2 linked regions of the Homo sapiens genome follow. The protein of the gene in region 1 purifies or fractionates together with the protein of each later gene. This does not show direct contact. Each region holds a gene or a part of one and is shown on either strand. Other genes may lie near its edges.

Region 1 (3,751 bases):
TGATTAGTGCAGGAGCTCCCAAAGCGTTCCTGGGCCATCTCCTCTCTCAAGGCCTCTCCTGCTCCCCTGCCCTCAACCGGCTCAGTGGCCCTACCTTCTCAATGAGGTCTCTCAGTGGCTGGGCTCCCAGCTCCTCAATGCGCTCCACCTGTAGGCAAGATAGGTAGAAGCGCTGTGTCTTCTGCTCAGCTTCACTGCTGGAGTTGAAGGTGGTGTTTTCTGTGGGGCAGAACACAGGATCCAGGTGGCAATTACGTTAACTGCTGAGGGGGAGTCCCTGGCCCTTGCTCGGTTTCTCTCCTTGCCTTGTCAATGAGCAGTCCTGCTAACGCAGACCCAGGAAGAGTGTCTGAAACAGCAAGCCGTGGCTTCCTCTCCCTGTCCATGGAGACCCAAGGATATCTAAGCAGTACAGGCTCCCTGGTGTCTACCACACCACGACAGTGCTCCAAACAGAGTGCAGAGAAGCGGCCCTCCATTGTACCCAGAGTTCTGCCCCCATCAAACCCATCTGCACTTCTCAATAGTCCCCTGCTCTCTGCCTCCCCACCCTCTGGAGTGTTCACAGAACCATCCACTTCCTCATTCATGGACACTGCCTATTTGCTAAGTGCCAGGCCCTGTGCTGGGCACAAGGCACATAGGTGGCCCAAGGCCTCCCTAACAGCCCCACTCACCAAGCAGGTGCTTCAGTATGGCCTGGTTTTGGTCCCAGAGGCTGTTGAAGGTGTTCCAGCGAGAACGCCCATCGGGCAGGGGGTTCCTCCGAATCCAGCCCCCACAGGAGAACTGGTAAAAGTCCTCACAGGGGCTCACCCCTCGGTCCAGGGACTCCAGGATTTTTCCAGCCACTCGAATGCAGGCCTCTGTAAGGCAGGTGCTGTGGGATGGGTCTGTGGTAGGGAACATGGCCGGAGGGTAGGAGACTGTCAGTCTGTCTGTCTGGAAGAGGCAAACTCTGCAAGGGCCATGACAGCAGGAAGGTTGGGAAGAGAAAGCAAAGCCGGGGGCTTTTCTGCAGGGAAGGCTTGGTTCCCACAAGTGAAAATCTTAGAGGCCCTTAGGCCTCCAGAACCCCTAGTTATGAATACTGACGAAGAGTGTGGGCCCACCTACCTCTGTGGTACTGGACCCCTAGGGCCACAAGGCAGCCCAGAAGCAGTGCAGCCAGCAGTAGAGAGGCACCTGCTAAGACCAGCTCCAGCTGCGTGCGTGAGCCTAACAGCTGTCTTGTCCCCTTCTGGAATCCCACCTGGGGAACACAGGGGGACAGAGAGTGACTGAGATGCAGGGCAGGGATCCAAGATTACCAGAGGGTGAAGCCACAGGCAGTTTTCAGAGCCACAGGGTTAACTCTGGGCCCGGGGGCAATGAGGCCAGCCAGTGAGTTGAGCCTTGAGTCTGTTTTGTGCAACGTCACGGCTTAGCATCGCCTCACCATAGTCCTAGAGCAGAGGCCAGAGATGGAGCGGAGGTGGGGGCAGGTGACCCTCCAGAACAGCCCAGAGCTCCTGGGTGTGCCAGGCGTCATGCCAGGGCTGGGGCCTGGTGAGAAAGGGGAAGCCCCCTTGCCCACCTCCATGGCGTCCGGGGAGGCCCCGCCCTCTACGGGGGTCTCGGGTGCGTCTTCATCCCGAAGCGTGGCCCGTTTGTACTCCACCATCTGCCAGACAGTCGGGGTTGCCAACCGAGGTCAGGCAGAGAGGGCTATTTGCCCACGACCCTGCCCCAGTGCTCCCTGCCTCGCGGACCCCTCCGCCCTGCTAAGAGGGCCCTTCCCTTCCCACCTGCCCTGCTCTCGGGCCCGGGGTCTCTCTATCACCCCTCCACCAGGCCCGGGAGGCAGCCTTACCTCCGCGAGCCGGGCACCGCCTGCCCCTCCGCGGCCGACCCCTCTGCCTCGTCCCCCTCCACCCAGTCCCCTCCCGTGGAGCCCGGGGCCCCCACTCACGTTGCTGCCAGCTCCCAGCTCCTGCAGCGCGACGTTCATGGTGGAGTCGGGCCAGGCGGTGATTCAGGGCTCCCGGCAGCTGGCCCGCTCCCGGGCCGCGGCCCCGGTCCCCTGCCCGGCCCCGCCGTCACCAGCCATCACGGCCGCCGCGCAGCACCCCCGCTCGGCCGCGGCCGCCCCCCCCCCCGCCCGAGTCCACCGCCCCACGCGGAGCCCCGCCCGGGGTGGGGGGAGGGTGGGGGAGAGGGAGGAGCGCGCCGAGGCTCTCCGCAGGCTCCAGCTGCCCTCCAGCAACACCGGAGACCCCTCCACGCTTCATGGTCCGCCCCCCATCTCAGCAGCACCCTCCTTCAAGCCACCCATAATTTACTTTCCTAGGAAAAGTAATGAAATTCAACCAGGCCCAGACGTTGCTAATACTCCTTGGCCTACTTCCCCCAAATTTCAGGCTCTCTCCATCCCCTTTAAGCACTTTAGAGAAATTATGCCCTCCTGAGGAACGTCTTCCCCCAGTAGTCCACACAGCCCCTCTTCAGCCGGCAAATACATAGCACACAGGCAGTTCACTCACATTCAGGGTGTGCACGTGGTACCTACCTATGTGCAGAGAACGCATAGACGCCAAGGCGCCAAGGACACGGGCAGGCACGACGCCCAGCACACAGTCCACACACACACGAGATGCCCACAGAATGTACACACACTGCATACTCACACACAGTGTACACACGCACAACACACCCAGAGCCAACACACACGCACACTGTGTTTCTGTATGTACACACACCAAGTGCAGGGGGAGCATACACTCCACACACACACAGCCTACACTGACTCTACTCTTCCATGGCGCTTCAAGACCACACTTCTACTCTCCAAGATAACTGCTGTCATCAGATCGTCTCATAAAGGGAGGGTTACAGATGGTGACAAATTGGCAGGGAAAAAAACAGCCATGCACAGATATTTAAAGAAAAGACGTGCTAACACTTCTAACTTGGGGAAAGCAAACCGTTTTATTTGGGAGATTTACAAGGAGAAAAAAAACTAACACCAAGCAATATTTAACTGAAAAGCAATAGTGTGGCACCCATGCATCTGCCATCTGCCTTCCATATTGTCATTCCTTAATCAGGCCTGGTGTTATTGCAGTCTGTTGCACTGAAAAGTGCCTAGTGTTTTACAATTCAAAAAAAAAAAAAAAAGGAAAAGAGAGTGCGCTTCATCTTCCTCTCCCCATCCTCCACCCCCACTGAGAAAGTACAAGAATTTGACCTGAGAAGGCTTGAGTGGGTAGCAAACACATAATCCATTTCTTTCTTTCTCTCTTTCTTTCTTTCTCTCTCTCTCTTTCTTTCTCTCTCTCTCTTCTTTCCTTTCTTTCTTTCTTTTCTTTCCTTTCTCTCTTTCTTTCTTTCTTTCTTTCTTTCTTTCTTTCTTTCTTTCTTTCTTTCTTTCTTTCTTTCTTTCTTTCATCTTTCTCTCAAGAAGGGTGTCAGCCGGGTGCAGTGGCTCACGCCTGTAATTCCAGCACTTTGGGAGGCCGAGGCGGGTGGATCACGAGGTCAGGAGTTCGAGACCAGCCTGGCCAACATGGTGAAACCCCGTCTCTACCAAAAATACAAAAATTAACCAGGCATGGTGGCGGGCGCCTATAATCCCAGCTACTTGGGAGGCTGAGATGAGAATCGCTTGAACCCAGGGGGGTGGAGGTTGCAATGAGCTGAGATCATGCCACTGCACTCCAGCCTGGGCAACAAAGAGCAAAACTTCATCTCAAAAAAAATAAATAAATAAAAT
Region 2 (3,651 bases), on another chromosome or scaffold:
AAGTCAAGCACCAGCCTGTATTTAAAAACTAAGGAAACAATGGAAGTTTAATGAAATTATGTCATTATAGTTGATGAAGAGAAAATATTTCAACCAAGAACTGAATTGAATAAAACTTTCTCAGAAACTCTTTGTTTAATGGGCAATCACAGTATGCCAGCATGGGTGTGCCACAGAGAATCAAAGTCCACAGATACTGATTATATTCCTATCTGGGAAGGATCAGTATGAAATATACATATGATGGGGCTCTCATAGAATGGGATATTTTCCCCCTTTTCCTCTCATTTCTCAATGCTCCTCTGGGAATTGTGTGAAGGTAAAGTCAAAAAGAAAGTTCTTACATTCTTAAATCCTCTGTAAAGGATCTGAAGCTCTTTCTTGGTAAATTTGCTCTGGGCTTCCAGAAGCTCAAGGGCTTCAGGCCGATGCCTGACGGTGGCCATCTCCAGTTCATCTTCCACGCTGTCTGTGGAGGAAAACAAGAAAGAGTCTTAGGACCAGCCACTGCTCACCGATGCTTACACAGAGCAACAAAGGAAAACGGAAGAACATGTCTGCTAATGTCTGTGACTGTCCACAGAGGAAGGACCCTCACAATGCCTATAAGGCCTTTACATTTCCCAGTTTAAGCGTATTAAGCTAAAACACTTGTATATGATTTTTTTGCATATTCTTGTCATTAATGTAGATATTACAACCCTAGCATTGTTTTAAGACAACAAAAAAGAGCACAGGAATTTATTTCAGATAATCAGTGGATTATATGATTACGTCAAACAAAAAGTTTAAGTAGCAATATATATTACTCTATAAATCTAACAGTAACATATATTTCTTTTTTCCCCAACGTTTAAGTTCAGAGGTACATGTGCAGGATGTGCAGGTTTGTTACATGGGTAAACATGTGCCATGGTGGTTTGCTGCACAGATCATCCCATCGCCCAGGTATGAAGCCCAGCATCCATTAGCTGTTCTTCCTGATCCTCTCCCTCCCCCAACAGGTGCCCAGCATGTGTTGTTCCCTGGCAGTGTCCATGTGTTCTCATCAATCAGCTCCCACTTACAAGTGAGAACATGCAGTGTTTGGTTTTCTGTTCCTGCATTAGTTTGCTGTAGAGAATGGCTTCCAACTCCATCTATGTGCCTGCAAATAAAATGATCTCTGTCCTTTTTATGGCTGCATAGTATTCCATGGTGTATATGTACCACATTTTCTTTATCCAGTCTATCATTGGTGGGCGGTTAGGTTGATTCTGTGACTTTCCTATTGTGAATAGTGCTGCAATGAACATATGCAGGCATGTATCTTTATAATAGAATGAATTATATTCCTTTGGGTATATACCCGGTAATGAGATTGCTGGGTCAAATGGTATTTCTGCCTCTAGGTCTTTGAGGAATCACCACACTACCTTCCACAATGGTTGAACTAATTCACACTCCCACCAACAGTGTAAAAGTTTCCCTTTTTCTCTACAACCTCACCAGCATCTCTAGCATTTTTAAGGTATAGTTAGAAAAACATAGAAGATCACAAATAGTCCAACCTGGAATTTGTTTCTATATAACAACCACTAGTTATAAACAATGGAATTGTCATTTAATAATAATCAGTTTTGTGCCCTATGTAAAATGCAACTACAAGATAGCCTCTGATAATGTTCACTAAGGATTCCAATGAAATCAGATATTTTGCACAGCTACTTGGGAGGCGGAGGTGGGAGGACTGCTTGAGCCCAGGAGGCTGAGGCTGCAGTGAGCAGTGATGGCACCACTGCAGTCCAGTTTGGGTGACAGCATGAGACCCTGTCTCAAACAAACAATCAAACAAACAAAAAAAATAGAACCTTAGACTCTCAGAATGGAAGGACATCTGAAGAAAGATATAAGGAGATAGAGAAAGAAGGAAACCTCCCTAATTCATTCTATGAAGCATCACCCTAATAACAAAACCAGCAAATGACATAACCAAAAGAGAACACTACAGACTGATATCCTTGATGAACATAGATGTTAAAATCCTTAACAAAATACTCACTAGCTGAATCCAACAACATATCAAAAAGATAATCCACCATGATCAAGTGGGTTTCAAACCAGGAATGCAGGGATGGTTTAACATACGCAAGTCAATAAATGTGATATACCACATAAACAGAATTAAAAACAAAAATCACACGATCATCTCAGTAGATGCTGAAAACCATTCAACAAAATCCAACATTCCTTTATGATTAAAACTCTCAGCAAAATTGGCATACAAGGCACATACCTTAATGTAATAAAAGCCATCTATGACACACCCACAGCCAACATAATATTGAGTGGGGAAAAGTTGAAAGCATTCCCTCTGAGAATGGAAACAAGATAAGGATGCCCACTCTCACCACTCCTCTTCAACATAGTATTAGAAATCCTAGCCAGAGCAATCAGACAAGAGAAAGAAAACAAGGGCATCCAAATTGGTAAAGAGGAAGTCAAACTGTCATTGTTTGTTGATGACATGATTGTTTACCTTGAAAACCCTAAGGACTTCTCCAGAAAGCTCCTAGAACTGATAAAAGAATTCAGTGAAGTTTCTGGACAGAAAATTAATGTACAAAAATCAGTAGCTCTTCTATACACTAACAGTGACCAAACAGAGAATCAAATCAAGAACTCAACCCCTTTACAATAGCTGCAAAAATATAAAATACTTAGGAATATACCTAACAAAGGAGTCAAAAGACCTCTACAAGGAAAACTACAAAACACTGTTGAAAGAAACCATAAGTGACACAAACAAATGGAAACACATCCCATGCTGGGTAGAATCATGGATGGGTAGAATCAATATTGTGAAAATGACCATACTGCCAAAAGCAATCTACAAATTCAACATAATCCCCACAGAATACCATGATTATTCTTCACAGAATTAGAGAAAACAATTCTAAAATTCATGTGGAACCAAAAAAGAGCCCGCATGGCCTCATAGAAAAAGCAAGACTAAGCAAAAAGAACAAATCTGGAGGCATCATACTACCTGATTTCAAATTATACTATAAAGCCATAGTCACCAAAACAGCGTGGTACTGGTATGAAAATTGGCACATAGACCAGTGGAACAGAATAGATAATTTGGAAATAAACCCAAATACTTACAGCCAACTGATCTTTGACAAAGCAAACAAAAACACAGAGTGGGGGAAAGGACACCCTTTTCAACAAATGGTGCTGGGATAATTGGCTAGCCTCATGTAGGAGAATGAAACTGGGTCCTCTTCTCTCACCTTATACAAAAATCAACTCAAGATGGATTAAGGACTTAAATCTAAGACCAGATACTGTAAAAATTCTAGAAGATAACATTGGAAAAACCCTTTTAGACACTGGCTTAGGCAAGGATCTCATGACCAAGAACCCAAAAGCAAAAGCAAAAGCAATAAAAACAAAGATAAATAGCTGGGACCTCATTAAACTAAAGAGCTTTTGCATGGCAAAAGGAACAGTCAGCAGAGTAAACAGACAACCCACAGAGTGGGAGAAAATCTTCATAATCTATACATCTGACAAAGGATTAATATCCAGAAAGTACAACGAACTCAAATGAGTAAGAAAAAAACCAACAATCCCATCAAAAAGTAAGCTAAAGACATGAATGGACAA

What was found. Proteins that work in one complex are often made in the same cells at the same time.
Region 2: the proteins of ECE2 (region 1) and KCNIP4 purify together in Homo sapiens (affinity purification with mass spectrometry; 2 studies listed by BioGRID and IntAct, with this or other methods). This does not show direct contact.

The regions. Positions count from the first base shown.
Region 1 is NC_000003.12:184,274,393-184,278,143, reverse strand, and holds the start of ECE2 (endothelin-converting enzyme 2), read right to left. Parts: upstream 2,123-3,751; 5' UTR 1,991-2,122; coding exon 1,952-1,990; intron 1,664-1,951; coding exon 1,577-1,663; coding exon of another isoform or gene 1,439-1,576; intron 1,253-1,438; coding exon 1,117-1,252; intron 894-1,116; coding exon 678-893; intron 220-677; coding exon 95-219; intron 1-94. Other genes in the region: EEF1AKMT4-ECE2 readthrough transcript protein, read right to left, coding at 95-219, 678-893, 1,117-1,252. UniProt on the Homo sapiens protein: Converts big endothelin-1 to endothelin-1. Also involved in the processing of various neuroendocrine peptides, including neurotensin, angiotensin I, substance P, proenkephalin-derived peptides, and prodynorphin-derived peptides.
Region 2 is NC_000004.12:20,850,199-20,853,849, forward strand, and holds part of KCNIP4 (Kv channel-interacting protein 4), read right to left. Parts: intron 470-3,651; coding exon 345-469; intron 1-344.